2 separate regions of the Homo sapiens genome follow, and region 1 is linked to region 2. The links come from fine-mapping of genetic effects on gene expression. Tissue or cell type: whole blood. Region 2 holds a variant in brackets; the other region holds the start of a gene. All regions are shown on one strand. Distances are from middle to middle.

Region 1 (8,108 bases), 46 kb after region 2:
TGTCCCTCCCCACCACCAAAACCAGGGACCTCCAGGCAGACATTTTTGATGGTTTGTTTTCTTTACTAGACTGTAGATACCTAAAAGGTGATGGGTCTTTCTTCCCTGTTTTCAGGCCCTACTGCATGGCTTTACATATTGTGGTTTTTCAAATGATATTCATGGTGTGAAACAAGAAAAAATGCGGGTGTTTGGTTTGAGAACAACCTGTTCTAAAGCAAAAAGAAATTCATCATAACACAAATGGATAGAGATAAGAGTCCAACCATCCCATTGAAGGTCAGGATGGACAGTCTAGATAATTGAGCAAGAAATCATCATAAACTATTTTTCAGAAGAATGACATGATGAAAGCTGTATTTCCAAGTCATAATGTTAGGTTTCAAGTTAAATCATCTCAGCTCCTGGGGAGCAGGATAAGACTTGGTACTTACCAAAGCTCCCGGGCCCACACACTCACCTTGTAGCCCTGGCATACGTCTTCAACAAGAGCTGTGGTGTGCCCTTTGTGCTGTGGTGCCCGCTCACAGCGCCAGCAGATGAGCTGCCCCTCGTCTTCGCAGAACAGGTGGAACTGCTCTCCGTGTTCCTCACATGACATTTCTTGATCCGTCTCTTTGAGGGCTTCAATGAGGCTTCCCAGCTGCTTGTTGGGTCGGAGGCTATCCATATGAAATGGAGCCCGACACTGGGGACAGCAGAATGTCTCCTGCCTCAGTTGCTTTTGGCTTGGGTTTTTAAAGAAGTCTGTTATACACAAGTGGCAGTAGCTGTGTCCACAGTTGATGCTTACTGGGTTCGTCATCAGGCTCAGGCAGATGGAGCAGGTGGCTTCCTCCATCATCTTCTTGGTGCTGGTGGTTGAGGCCATAGCTTTTATTGAAAAGCTCCAATATTGGCTCTAGAGATGGAGATGAAGCAGCCAGAATTTTCCACCGTGATGAAAATACACCTCACCTGCACCTCTATGTGATGAGCTGGCTGCAACTGACTTCCATAGGTCTTGAAGGTTTTCCTTCCAACCCCTATTATCTCATTTTGTATTGAAGAAAAGAGGACCTAAAAGGAAGAAGTTGAGGCTGAGGTTGTTTGGGCCACGTTTGAGAACTGCAACCCAAGTGCAGAGTTTCAAGTTGCCCTCATTAGCAAGCAGTTACAAGTGGTTGTTTAGAGGAAAAAAAGCAGTTTTAAAGCAGTTTTAAAGTTGTTTGCCAAGAATTTACATTAAAATAGCATAAGCTTTTGACTGGCTATACATTGTTCTTTGTATTACAAATCTCGGGAATATGTAGGTAATAGATGAGGCAGCCAGTCAGGAACAAAATGCTTTTAAACATGGGGTCTTAACTGAAGACCTATACTCCTGCCTCACTTGTCCTGATAAATTTTGCATACCTCACATAGCTCAGACTGCTCTAAATTATTTCATTATTTTTCTTTTCTCAGTCTTCTAACTTTTTTTTTTTTTTTTAATGAGACGGAGTCTCACTCTGTCACCCAGGCTGGAGTGCAGTGACGCTATCTCGGCTCACTGCACCTCCGCCTCCCGGGTTCAAGCGATTCTCCTGCCTCAGCCTCCCGAGTAGTAGCTGGGTCTACAGGTGTGCACCACTACGCCCAGCTAATTTTTGTATTTTTAGTAGAGATGGGGTTTCACCATGTTGGTTGGCTCGATCTCTTGACCTTGTGATCCACCCGCCTCAGCCTCCCAAAGTGCCAGGATTACAGGCATGAGCCACCGTGCCCAGCCTCTTTTTCTTTTCTTATAAGACAAGTTCTCGCTCTCTTGCCCAGGCTGTAGTGGAGGGCAGTGGCATGACCACAGCTCACTGCAGCCTCGACCTCCTGGGTTTAAGCAATCCTCCTGCCTCACCCTGGCAGAGTGGCTGGGACTACAGGTATGTGCCACCATGTCCAGCTAAAGTCTTCTCTCCAGAAAGAAGAAATGCATTGGAATTTAGAGGATACACAAACATCTAGCTGTATAGCTAATACAGTAGCCACTATCATGAGTAGGAATTTAAATTTAACTTAATAAAAATTAAAATGAAAAAATTCAGTTTTTCTGTTCCAGTTGCCACATTTTGATTGCTTAATAGTTGCATGTGACTAGTGGCTACATAACAGCCTCAATATACAACATTCTGTTATCACAGAAAGTTACCTTGGACCAAGTGCTGGGAGAAGCAATGCAGGCTTCCTCACAAAAGCTGTAAAAGAGAGAACTCAGGGAGTGTGAAACTCTTTCCTATTCTAGTTAACTTCAAGAATAATTGTTACCAGGCCAGCACGGTGGCTCACGCCTGTAATCCTAGCACTTTGGGAAGCCGAGGCGGGCAGATCACCTGAGGTCAGGAGTTTGAGACCAGCCTGACCAACATGGCAAAACCTCATCTCTACTAAAAATACAAAAAGTTAGCTAGATGTGGTGGTGCACACCTGTAATCCCAGCTGCTCAGGAGGCTGAGGAAGGAGAATGACTTGAGCTCCGGAGGGGGAGGTTGCAGTGAGCCCAGATTACACCACTGCACTCCAGCCTGGGTGAAAGAGCGAGAATCTGTCTTAAAAAAAAAAAAAAGAATAATTGGTACCAGAATTACTCTTTGTAATTAGTAGTAACACTTATGCAATTGGGTGATCTGTGACAGATTCCATTGAAGGAGTATGGGGAGCTTCACCCCAATATATGACTCCCTGGTATAATGAGTATTTTGAATTAAAGGCCCTTAGAGATCAGCAGATGCTGGAAGAGACTTTTCCCCTATCTACATAAAGACCAGTCACACTAGACAAGAAGAACAATTGTTTTTCCTTCCAACCCCTATTATCTCATTTTGTACTGAAGAAAAGAGGACTAAGAATGTAACCAGACCTAATCAGACACTTTCACAAAATAATGTCTGTCTCTCAGGCTCATTCATTTTCCAAAGAGAACCATTTACAAGTTAAACTCTGTTCCTCCATTCATTCATCCTCCCAAATATTCATTTATTCTCCCTAGTAATCATTTACTGCCCCTCAAAGAATTACCTATATTCTCCTGATATCACCCTTCCCCTCTGAAATAAATATGTATACATGTATAAACGTTATACATACATATTTATACAGTATACATACATATTTATACATACATACATATGCATACATATTTATATTTATGTATTTATACATAAGTATTTATAAATAAGGCTATATAAGTATCTACCCCCATTGGCAGAGGGGGTAATCACTCTGTGATTCTAGCCCATGTACTTGTTAATAAATTTGTATGCCTTTTCTCCAATTAGCCTGCCTTTTGTGAGTCGATTTTTCAGTGAACTTCAGAAGGCAAAGGGGAAGTGTTCCCTTGGCTCCTACACCATCATGACAATAAAATTTGACTCCACCTCGACCCCCCCCATCCCCCACAAAGAACAACAACCAACACTGGTTAATAAGGTCGGTTGTTTTTTGTTTGTGTTTTTGTTGTTGTTGTTTTTGCTTTCAGGAGCAGAGGTATAATAGGCAAAAGAAAGAGAAAGGAGAATAGTGAATACCTCTTCTGCAGAGAGGGGTGCCTAAGTGGGACTTCCCTGGCTAATAACGTCTTGCTAGAGACCCAACCAGGAGGATAATGGAAGCAATCAAGGCAACCAGAACAACCAGAAGAACCGGTTTATCCTTTTTGTGCCCTCTCCCTAAACTGAGGGAATAAGAATTGGAAAGAAGGCTGCAGAGCAGAGGGTTTGCTCCTGAGGAGCAGTTATTTCTATGGGATCAGAGCTCCTGCAGAACTGGGGAGTTTACTTTTACTATCTCTTCTCCAGGACAGGACCTATCTCAAGAGACATGTTCAGAGTGATTGCAACATAAAGAGTTTGCAGACCCAAGGAGGTAGGGAAGGCAGAAAGAAGATGGGGGAGGCCAGGGATAGGCAACAGAGGAGTGACCAGGAGCGAAAAAGCCTGCCTCTTCTGAGAACCTAGCTGGGCTCTCCCTGTACCCCCGATCCCTCCCCCCCGCCCGCCCCCACACCCCTACTCCTGGGAGCTCCTCTAGGACAGGGGCAGAGTCAGGAGGAAGTTTGAAGAGTGCCTAGAATAAAAAACAGTAATTTAACTACAATTACCGGGTAGGCTGTTTTCCTCTCACAATTTGATCAGTCTCTTGAAGCCACACAGAATTTCTTCTGAAGACGTGTATTCCTTGGCAGGCTATTTCCTCCAGTGATACACCAGGCCCCTCTCTGCTGGGGTCACTGCTCTTCTGGGGAGATGGGGCTCCCCTCCTTCCAAGGCTCCAGGGTTCCTGTCCTGGGCCCCACTCATCTAAGTTCTGAATCTTCTGAGATTTGGTGTAAAGTCTGGTGAAAGAAAGAGCAGGAAAGAGGTGAGAGCTGTAAAACAAAGAAAGTCCTGACCATTTTCAGAGTTGGAGGGGCCCTGCTGTCACGAAATATATTCCCCACCCCACTTGCCATCAGTACACACTCACATATCCACTGAGAAAACCTTAGCCTGGACCTTTTCCGTAACCTTCACTGCTCAGACACTTACATATTCGCTGCTAGTCCCCTCTGTTGCTGCCACTTCCTGGGTCAGGAAGTTAACTCAGACCGGATTAAACTGAGAAGTGAAACTACTGTGGGAGGCGGGGCTCATAAGATTTAGGAGAAAACTAGTGACGTTGTTCATATCATTTGCACTCCGCCTCTCCGGTAAAGGAGGGGGAAACGTAGGAAGAAAATATCCTTCTTTTACAGCAATAAAAAGAAGGAACCAATTAATAACCCTGTAAACTATCATGTGACCCCAACACAGAGTATCTAAAAACAGGAAGCCTGCAGAGGTTCAGTTCACAGACTCTGATTTGAGATCTTTCTACTTTTGCCACCAACTCCCTTGGGAGTCCTTAAGCCTTCCTAGCTGATGTTACTTCTTTTGCTATTTATGGGTTGCTTGTGGTTCTATAACTGCTCTGAAGGGTGTGGTGGAAAAAGGGGTGGTAACAGCAGTAGGACTCATTGGCATCACAAAATTCATCTGAGTCAGCTTTCTATTCTTCTCTGTCCCGTTCTGTGTCTTGTTTTTCTCCTTGCTGTCCTTCTGCAGGACTCAGATCTTCTTCAATAGCGAGGGTCAGCCAGGATAGAAAATGGGAGTCACTAGTGGCCCAGCAGTGAGTGCCCCCAGCTTAGAGCTGTGTGGGATCCCTGGGACCATCACTCTGCTTTGTGCTTTGTGGAGAAAAGGCTGTGGGGTCCAGGGTCAAGTCCTTAATGACTTAGCTCCAGCTTCTCCACTTCAAAATGAAAGGAAAAGTACTATCACCACCCGTTAGAATTATTATTTCATGGGGAAAAAAGATGGATTACTATCTCACAATAAGAGCTTGTCACATTTATAAGTCTCAGGTGTAAGAGGCATTTATGATAACAACATAATAAATGCTGGCTTAAGTAGATGCAGTGGTCCAAGGGAACCAGTAAGGGGAGCTCAGGACACAGGTGGGAGGAGAAATTAAACTTGAATTCTGGGAGCCACTGGCCTGTCTGGGCCCCTGGCCTGCCTGCTGACCCTGATAGCCAATGGAACATGGAGTTTGGCCCAGCTGCAATCCCTCTGGTCCAACTACTCAAAATAAAGGCAAGATTGGGAAACACGTTCCTTTCTTCCTATACCAAGCAGAAGACTCTTCAGCACTGCACCCTCCTGGGTGCTCACAGAGCCTTCTGTTGTTTTGCCACCTACGATTCATCATGCCCTGGCATGATGGTTGCAGACCCCATGCATAGCATGGGACATTCTACTCCTGAGGCAACCAGCACACAGAGAGAGGAGAAAGAATGAGCCCCTGAATCCTTGGTCCCACGATGAGTCCTTGCAGATATCTACAACTTTCATTGTTGTGGATGTGACTCTGTACCCAGGCATGGCTCATTCCAGATCTGTCCTATTGTCAGAGGTGTTCAAACCAGAATGACTCCATTTTGAATGGGGGCTAGGTAAAATAAGGCTGAGACCTACTGGGCTGCATTCCCAGGAAGTTAGGCATTGTAAGTCACAGGATGAAATAGGCAGTTGGCACAAGACACAGGTCATAAAGATCTTGCTGATAAAACAGGTTGCAGTAAAGAAGCTGACCAAAACCCACCAAAATCAAGATGGCAACAAGAGTGGCCTCTAGTCATTCTCATTGCTCATTATACACGAATTATAATGTGTTAGCAAGTTAGAAGGCATTCCCACCAGCTCCATAGTGGTTTATAAATACCATGGCGATGTCAGGAAGCTACCCTATATAGTCTAAAAAGGGGAGGAACGCTTGGTTCTGGGAATTGCCCACATCTTTCCCAGAAAACATATGAATAATCCACTCCTTGTTTAGTACATAATCAAGAAATAACTGTAAGTATCTGTATTAGTCCATTTTCACACTGCTGATCCAGACATACCTGAGACTGAGTAATTTATACCAGGAAAAAATGTTTCATGCTCTTACAGTCCCACGTGTCTGGGGAGACCTCACAACCACAGCAGAAGGCAAGGAGGAGCAAGTCAGGTCTTACATGGATGGCAGCAGGCAAAGAGCTTGTGCAGGGAAATTCCTTTCTATAAAACCATCAGGTCTCATGAAACTTATTGACTATCATGAGAACAGCAGTATAAATTACTCAGGGAAAGACCTGCCCCCATGATTCAATTACCTCCCACCAGGTCCCTCCCACAATATGTGGGAATTTAAGATGAGAGTTAGGTGGGGACACAGCCAAACCATATCAGTATCCTTAGTCCAGAAGCTGATGCTCTGCCTGTAGAGTAGCCGTTCTTTTATTCCTTTACTTTCTTGCTTTCACTTTACTGTGTAGACTTGCCCCAAATTCTTTCTCACACGAGATCTAAGAACCTTCTCTTAGGGTCTGGGTTGGGACCCCCTTTCTGGTAACACTATCAAAGGATCAGGAAAAGGAAGCTAGTGAATGCTAAAAAGGAAACAAACTACCATTACCAATAATAACAGCAAGACAAAAGCAAAACGGATTGTGACAGCTGTCCCATCTCACACCTGTTTCCCATTGCAGGAAGGAGGGGCTGGTTCATGCACAGAGTGGCCAATATTAGAAGCAGAGATGGGGTGCAGATGAGACTTCAGGAATATGTTGACAAAGGCAGGCCTAGGGAGAAATCAACCTGAACTATCCCCAAGGAGGAATGCATTATCTCTAATATGTAAAGTTAGGCTTGATCCTGTGATTATGGGATATAGGAGTCCAAAGACTCACAATGGGAAGTAGGTCACTAGAGTCTCCTTCAGAAGCTCTGTACTGTGTGTTCCCACTGTGGGCAAGAGTCAGCACTCAGCTATTCCTAGAATGCCTTTCCTCAACTCCTTCAGATTTTGCCTCTCAACTAACCCTATCCTGACCACTTGTTAGCAAGTGTACCCCTCTCTCCCTCCCAAACATTTTCAAATCTATTTTGTTCCCATGGCACTTATCACTGAATATTTTACTAATTTATTTTGTTTAGTGTTTGCTTCCCTCATGAGAATGCAAAGGGATGGATTTTTTTCAATATTGTTCACTGATGAATCCCAGTAACTAGAATATTTCTAAGCATAGTGATGTGCATTAAATCAAAGAGTAACTTTCTGAATTGCACTAAACACACATCACAAGAGGTGTGTGCACATATGTGCATGATGCACGTAGTGTGGTGTGGGTGTTGTGTGGGGTATGTGGTACTGTGTGTGCTGTGTGTGGTATGTGATACATAGTTTGTGTTAGTGTGATGCATGTGATGTGGTATGTGTGTGCGTGTCCATACATATTAGGGGTGGCGGGGATGTTAATATGTCAAATGGTACTAGAAAGTATCAGAACTCATGGTGCTTACTGGTTTCCCAGAGAGCTGCTTCTCTCCCACCTGTAGGATATACTGATGGTTTGGACAGAGAAGAAATAAAAAGAAGGCTGTGACCTACTGGGCTGAGGAAATAAAAACGAAAGTAAAAGAAGAGCTGGGAAAAGAGAGTGGAGGGGCCAAGGGAAATTTCCCCTTTGGCTTCTGGGGAAACTTTGCTGAAAAATCAACTCACAAATTTATTAACATGTACACAGGGAGAAC
Region 2 (8,108 bases):
AAAAAAATTTCGTATTAGAAGATTTCAACATTCTTTAAACTGAGAAGCATAACATATAAACAGAAAACCACAGCAAAACAAAAATGCAAAGCTCAATAAATGAACACAAAGTGAACACCATAATAATTGCCACACAAGTAAAAAAACAGAAAATCAGCCAACCCTCCCAGAGCCGCCTGATGCTTGCTTCCAGTCACATTATCACTCCATCTGCCCTAAACATAACCCCTATTTTGATTTCCAATGCTGTAATTTAGTATGCCTGTTTTTGAAACATATAAAATGGAAATAAAACAAATGTAATCCTATGTACCTGACATATTTCACTCCAGAACATTAGGTTTGAATAGATTCATCTGTGTTGCTGTGTATAACTTTAATTCATTTTTATTGTTATGTAATATTCCATGTTATGAGTGCAACAATTTAGGTGTCTACTGTTGATGCATATTTGCTTCCCTTTTTCAGCTAATATAAACAATACCGTGAATATTCCTGTGTATGTGTCTTGGTATATATAGGAATACATATTTTGTTTGTATACCTAGGAGAGGAATTGTTGGGTCAAATGCTAAACTCTTTTTGAAAGTGGTGATATTAGGTTTACATGCGATGAAATGAAAATTAAAACCACAGTTATAAACAGCATGGATGAACCTCACAAACCTAATGTTGATGGAATCTAGCTGGGAATTCCTGTTCTTCCATATACTTCCCAATATTTTTTTCCAATTAAAATTGTTAATCTTTTGAAGATGTTATCCATTGTGGCAGATGTGCAGTATTATCTCATTATGGTTTTATTTTACATCTTTTGCCCATTTTTTCTTAATTGGATTGTATATCAGTCGACTTGGGCTGCCATAACAAAAATACTAGACTAGGTAGCTTGAACAAAAGGAGTTTATTACCTCACAGTTCTAAAGGCCAGGCCAGAAATCCTAAATTGAGGTGCCAAGAGATTCAGTTTCTAGTGAGGGCTCTCTTATTGACCTGAAGATAGTTGCTGTCTTAGATTGTTTGGTGCTGAACAGAATACCAGAGACCAAATAATTTATAAAGAATACAGATTTATTTCTTACAATTCTGGTGGCTATAAAGCCTATGGTCGAGGGGCCCACCTCTGGCAAGGGCCTTCTTACTGTTATGGCAGATGTGAGATGTCATCTCATATTCAAACCACAGCAGTCGCCTTTTGTGTCCTCATGTGGCCTCTTCATATGCCCATAAAATGACCTCATGTCTCTTCCTTTTCTTATAAGGACACCAGATCTATCAGACTACTGGCCTACTCTTATGACCTCATTTAACCTTAAATATCTCCATAAAGTCCCAAAATCCCTATCTCCAAATATAGGCACATTGGGTGTTAGAGTTTCAACATCAATTTTGGGGGAACACAATTTAGGCCAAAAAGATTGTGTTTTTTCTTGTTGGTTTAAGATAGCTGTCTTTTTGTCCTTTTTGTCCTTTCTTTTTTTTTGAGGTGGACTCTTGCTGTGTCACCCGGGTTGGAGTGCAGTGGCGCTGTCTCAGCTCACTGCAACCTCCACCTCCTGGGTTCAAGAAATTCTCCTCCTCCCAAGTAGCTGGGACTACAGGTGCATACCACCGCGCCCTGCTAATTTTTGTATTTTTGATAGAGACGGGGTTTCACCATGTTGGCCAGGCTGGTCTCAAACTCCTGACCTCAGGTGATCCACCTGCCTCGGCCTCCCAAAATGCTGAGATTACAGGTGTGAGCCACCAAACCTGGCCTGTCTTTTCTGTTTTAAGTTTTTAAATTTTGCTCACGAACCCTTTATCCATTTTATGTGTTGCAGGTATTTCCTCTGTAACTTGTCTTCACTCTGTCAGAGGCTGGAGTGCAGTGGCACAATCACAGCTCACTGCAGCCTCCACCTCCCAGGATCAAGCGATCCTCCCATCTTATCCTCCTTAGTAGGTGGGACTACATGTGCAGGCCACCATGCCCAGCTAATCTTTGTATTTTTTTGTAGAGATGGTGCTGTTGCCCAAGTTGGTCTCAAACTCCTGAGCTCAAGCAATCCATCAACCTTGGCCTCCCAAAGTGTTGGGACTAGAGGTGTGAGCCACCACTGCACCCAGCCAATGATATCTCATGATGCATTAAAGTCATTAATTTAGTGTACTCAAATTAAGCACACTGCCCTTTTATGCACAACCTTTTTTGTATCTTATTTAAAAAATCATTTTCTATTTCAAGGTCATGAAGATCTTATTTTATAATACCTTCTTGTGAAATTAGTTCTCAAGACTACCCTCACTTCTAACACCAATTATAAGTTGGGAGGTCTGTGGTTCCCAATCAACCTTAGGTTAGTAATTTGCTAAAAGGACTCACAGAACTTGCTGAAGCTGTTAGCCTCATGGTTACAATTTATTATAGGATATATAGCTTATTATGTCATTCCAATGCAATGTAAAATTATACAACTACTTTTAAAAAGATTTTAGCATTTGACCCAACAATTTCACTCTGAGGTATACAAACAGCAGATATGTGTGCACATATATACCAAGACACATACACAGCAAAATTCATTGTTTGTAATAGTTGAAAAGGGGAAACAACTCAAGGAATAAAGATTAAAATCAGCTGAGAAAAGAAACACACAAGGCAGTATTATGGATCGAATTGTATGCAGATCTCCCTTGCCCCCAGAAGATATGTTTAAAGTCCCAACTCCCAGTACCTCAGAATTGTGGCCTTATTTGGAAATAGGATAGTTGCAGATATAATTAGTTAAGATGAGGTTATAGTACAGTATGATGGGCTGGTGACTTAGAAGAAGTAGTATATATATATTTTTTAATAGAACTAGTATTCTTCTAAGGTGGTCACGTGAAGACAGACACACACAGGCAGAGACTGAGGTTATGCAGCTGCAGGTCAAGGAATGTCAAAGGTTGCCAGCAAGTACGAGAAGCTAGGAAGAGTCAAGGAAGGATTTTCCTACAGGCTTCAGTGGAAGCATAGATCTAATGATACCTTCATGTCAGATTTCTAGCTTCCAGAACTACAAGAGAATATATTTGTTGTTTTAAGCCACCCTAGCTTCTAGCTCTTTGTTACAGCAGCCCTAGGAAACTAATATAGGCACAATCCAGGCAAGTTCCAAATATGAGCTTCCAGTTGTCCTCTCCCAGTAATATGAACAGTATTACTTTCCCAGCATTAATGTGTGACAATACACATGACGTACAGAGCAGTCCCCACTTATGCACAAAACATATGTTCCAGGACCTCCAGTGGATGTCTGAAACCATGGATAGTACTGAACTCTATATAGCTGTTTTTTCCTATACAGACACAGCTATGATAAGGCTTAATTTATAAATTAGGCACAGTAAGAGATTAATAACAATAAATTAGAATAATTGTTAAGAATATACTGTATAAAAGTTAGGTGAATGTTTATTTCTGAAATTTACCGTTTATTATTTTTGGACTGCAGTAGACCACAGGAACTAAAACCATGTAGAAACCGTATACAAGAGAACTGTATTTCACCCGAGCCTCAGTGTGCAGTTTTAATGGCCTGCCATGGTTGACTGCTCACATGGCCGATCTTTTAGTCTACCTCCACAGGTAGAGCTGATACTGTGTGGCTCAAAGTTCCTATTATAAATCACATTGTTGACTGTGTGGTGGTCAAAACCTCCAGGTAAACAAAGACACACTTATCAGTGAGAACATTTCAAGGGTCTAAAATTCATCTCCCAGTAGCTGAGGGCAAAGGCTAGACCTCTTTTTGGGTAAGATAAATTTTTTACCATATACTTTATTTTGCTTTTCATGTTTAACTTTATTTTGCTTTTCATGTTAGTTCCCCTGGAATTGTTTTTTGTGTATAGTGTGAAGTAGGGGGTCAAGTTTCTTTTTTTTTCCTTTTTGTTCTTTTTCTGTTTAAAAGGCTATACAATTGTCCCATGCCATTTATTTACAAGAGTCCTTTCACCATTGTTGTATGGTGCCACTTTAGATGTAAATCAATGTCCATATTTGTTTGAGCCTGTTCCATTCGTTTGTCTATTTTTGGACAACACTGCCCTGATTATTGTCATTTTATCAGTTTTGATATTTAATAAAGCAACAGATTTGTTTATTTTGGGCCCTTGGATTTGTGTATTAAATTTGAACCCTGTTTGTCAATTTCTATAATAAAGCTTATTGGGAATCTGATTAGGATTACAATGGTTTTGTAGATCAGTTTGGGGACAATTAATACCTTTAAAATATTGACCGCTTCAACTGTAAATATACTCCTCCATTATTTAGTTTTCCTGTTTAATTTATCTGAGTAATACATTATAGTTTTCTTCGTAGAAGTCAGATACGTAGAAAATTCAAAGCCCAAGTGCAATAGCTCATGTCTGTAATACCAGCACTTTGGGAGGC[C/G]GATGTGGGTGGATCACCTGAGGTCAGGAGTTTGAGACCAGACTGGCCAACATGGTGAAACCTCATCTCTAGTAAAAATACAAAAATTAGCTGGGTGTGGTGGCGGGCACCTGTAATCCCAGCTAATCAGGAGACTGAGGCAGGAGAATCGCTTGAACCCAGGAGGCAGAGGTTGCAGTGAGCCAAGTTCCTGTCACTGCACCCCACCCTGGGCGACAGAGCGAGACTTCGTCTCAAAAAAACAAAAAAAAGAACATTCAAATAATCAATGTAGATAATTCAAATAACTAAAAAATGAACAGTTATTAAAATATCAGGATATAAAAGCAAAAAAATCAATAACCTCCATATATACAAAATGGCCAGTTAGAGAAAAAAAAAAGAATAGGCGAGACTTAAAAAGGCTGGGAATCTCCCTGAAAATCTTTGAGAGCCTTGGCCCTGCCCTCAGGGATTTCTCTGGCTTCATGCCCAGATACGGGTACAGTTCCTTGTTTAAAAAAATTTTGCTCCATCAATCAACAAGGGGCTCCTTCCTCAGAGCACAAGGACCTCCATAACACCGGACACTAGATGTCTAAGGGACACCTCTTAAGGAAGTTAGACTTCCAAAGAATGGTGTTTCCTCTGTCCCCAAACTCTGGAACTCACAGCACAACTGCTCCTTGGAGTTCGGTTTCAAATCTACAAGGCTGTCATGGAGGTTGCAGACCAAGTCCGTGGCCTCAGTGTCCGGATGTACGGTGGCCTTGGCACCTGAATGTGAGAACATGACCTCCCTGAAACCACCACAAGTATTGTTTCATGTTATGTATGTTTTTTCTTATCTGAAATTCCTTTTCTTTAAAAATTCAAATTACATATTTTGCAAGCCCCTGAACAAGCTTCATGAGCATTTATTGAACCCACAGCTTTTAAAACCTACTGAACACTTTGCTCTATGTTGTCATTCACTATCCACCAATTATTTAATTATTGATCAATATTGTTTCCTTAGTGTTGGGATCATTTATGCATGTATTTCTTTTATATTGCATATTTTATATTTCTGCATTACAGTTATTACATATTACTTTTGCTACAGTAATAGTTCAAAAGTGTACATCCAAAATTTAGCTGTGAAGTGGATGGACTGAGGCAGAACTGGAGGCAAGAAAATGTCACAGTAATTCTAAAAAAGATGATGTACAATTAGAGCAAGAGAGTAGCACTGAAATTGAAGAAAAATAGATGCGTTTGAGAGAAAATTAGGAGGTAGAATCAACAGATTAGATGTAGGGATGAGAAGGGTCAAAGATGACACTAGGGTTTTTAACTGGAGCAAGTAGGTAGACAGAACATTTCTTCCTGAAAGGGCAGGTCAGATCATGTGTTGTCTCAAAGGGCATGAAGAGTAGAAAGCCTGGGACAGATCCTGAGATGACCAATACCCATGGTGCAGGGAGAGGGAGGGAGATCTGCTAAAAAGACTGCAAATGTCAGGATAGTAGAAAATCATGAGTGTGTGATGTCCTGGAAGTTGAGACAGTATCACATTTGAGAACATTTAAATTGGTAACTCTGACAAAAAGCTGGAGGCCAACTGTGAATGCCCATGAGAGTGAGAAGCTCCCACACTTTTGTGGGCATCAGAAAGCCCACCAGGTTCCTGCAGTGAAGATCTGAGAAGGATCCTCTTGTGGCTTTGGCAGGGAGAGAAGAATTATTATGAAATACACCCCAGAACCTTCTTCAAAACAAAGGCCTACTCTCAAGGGGAAAACATTTTGCCAGAGTCTTATCCCAGCTGGGAGAAGGTAATTCTTCCCACTGCAGCCTCATCTAGGCTTTCTGTCTCACTTAAGGGAAGAAAATTAGTCAACAGGGATCAGAGCTTCATGAAAATAAATTGGAAATGGTGCAGCCAGGAAAGGAGCAAAGGTCTGAGGAGGAGGAGAAGGAGGAAGAGGAGTTGTATCATTATAAATACTTGAGGAAGAGGAGGAGAAGGAGGAGGAGGAGGAGTTGTATCATTATAAACACTTGAGGAAGAGGAGGAGGAGAAGGAGGAGGAGGAGTTGTATCATTATAAACACTTGAGGAAGAGGAGGAGGAGAAGGAGGAGGAGGAGGAGTTGTATCATTATAAACACTTGTGACGGTCCCAGCCCCAAGATATAGGCATGCTAATAAACTGAGGCTTAACACTTTGACTACAGAATGCTGCTTCTCCCTAACACCATCAAGGCTCCAACTGAATAACAATGAATTATGAATGAAAGAGCTGTAAGGAGAGACAAAAGTTAGAATGAGACAAGTATTGTTATCTAGAGATGCCAAGAAGGCAAGGAAGATAACTAAAAAGGCACTCTGGATTTAGAAATAGGAAGTCATTAGTGACCTTGTAAATAATGGAGCCAGAGGAATACCAAGGGCAGAAGCCTCACTATAGTGTGTTGCACCTGTCAGAGGTCAGGAGGTGTAACTGACTCTCCCACAGTGTGGCTTTGGAAGAGAGAAGTCAGCAGCTGCATGGAGATTTGGGAGAGGGAAAGCTTTTTTTTTTTTTTTTTAATTGGAAAAGACTGAGCTATGTGTAAATAGAATAAGACAGGAAGAGTGTAGACACAGGAAAGAGGGCAGACAAAAACAAGTGCACAGTTATCTAAGGGAAACAATGGGATCAAGCTGCAAGTATATAAACTTGTCTTGATAGAAGAATCCTTGATCTGGTTTATTCAGTGTTTGGTCCAAACCCACATCCCTGTTCTGCCTGTCTCTGACTTGCTCTGTGCCCCAGAAGCCCAGCTTCTACAGATAGCATTAGCTGGGCAGCCCTGCCCTCTTGCAACAGCTGGATTTGGCCAGTGATCAGCCCAGCAGGAATGTAGATGGCAAAGGAGAGAGAGGTTAGTGTACTTATTCCCTGCATCACCCCCCTGCTTGGTGGGCAGCTCTTCCTCCACAGTCCCAGCTCTGGCCTAGCTCTGGTTACAGGTTCCCTCCCATTGCCTCTTCAGATTTAAAGGTGTGTCTGTCAGGGTATAACTGGGAGCTAGAAATTGCACTGAAATTGAACAAAGAATTTTATGGGAATGGTTGTTAACTAGTTATAAGAGGACTGAAAATGGAAAAGTGGACAAACGTATCAGAGATAGTAATGACAGAAAGCAACTACCACCTCCAGGTTTAGGAGAACAAGGAAAAGATTCTTTGAAGAGATCCCCAGAACTGGGACCTCTGAGGAGTGTATGCTGGACCACTGATGATGATATGTCTGTAGATAGAGGCATGATGAGGCTGATTTTAGGAGCATGGAAGATCTCCAAACTGAAGCCAACTGCTGTTACTGGATTCAACTGCCACTGCCAGGTTGAAGAACCCATTCTGTGAGGATGTCAACAAACAAAGTGGGAAATCTTTTCACATCCTTCCAGCCCTCTAGTCTTCCTCCAGTGCTTTCTATTGGTAGGGTTTGGGGAGGTGGCTAGCAAAGCGGTATTGGAAAAGATAGAAGAGACTAAATCTTCATAACCAGCACAGGGTGACACTGGATCACTACTGTTGCTGATCTTGGGCTGCCTCATATCCCCTGTTCTTCCCATTAGCCCTGTCACAACTTTGTAGATATCCCTTCATTATATGCCCTTCATATATTCTTTTGGTTTAACTTTTTCTGTTGGAATCCTAATATGGCACTCCTCCAT

Evidence for each region. PIP is the estimated chance that this variant, and not a neighbour inherited with it, causes the effect.
Region 1: TRIM38 starts here. The variant in region 2 is fine-mapped to the expression of TRIM38 in whole blood (INTERVAL, PIP 0.93).

The regions. Positions count from the first base shown.
Region 1 is chr6:25,959,286-25,967,393 of GRCh38, reverse strand. It overlaps TRIM38 (tripartite motif containing 38), which reads right to left and starts at 4,592. Exons shown (of 8, transcript NM_006355.5): 1 at 4,539-4,592; 2 at 4,112-4,345; 3 at 461-1,059. The coding sequence starts at 871.
Region 2 is chr6:26,005,442-26,013,549 of GRCh38, reverse strand. No RefSeq gene overlaps it. Among named protein-coding and RNA genes, the nearest start is that of H1-1, 8.3 kb to the left of the region's middle. The variant C/G (reference allele first, on the strand shown) is at 4,424.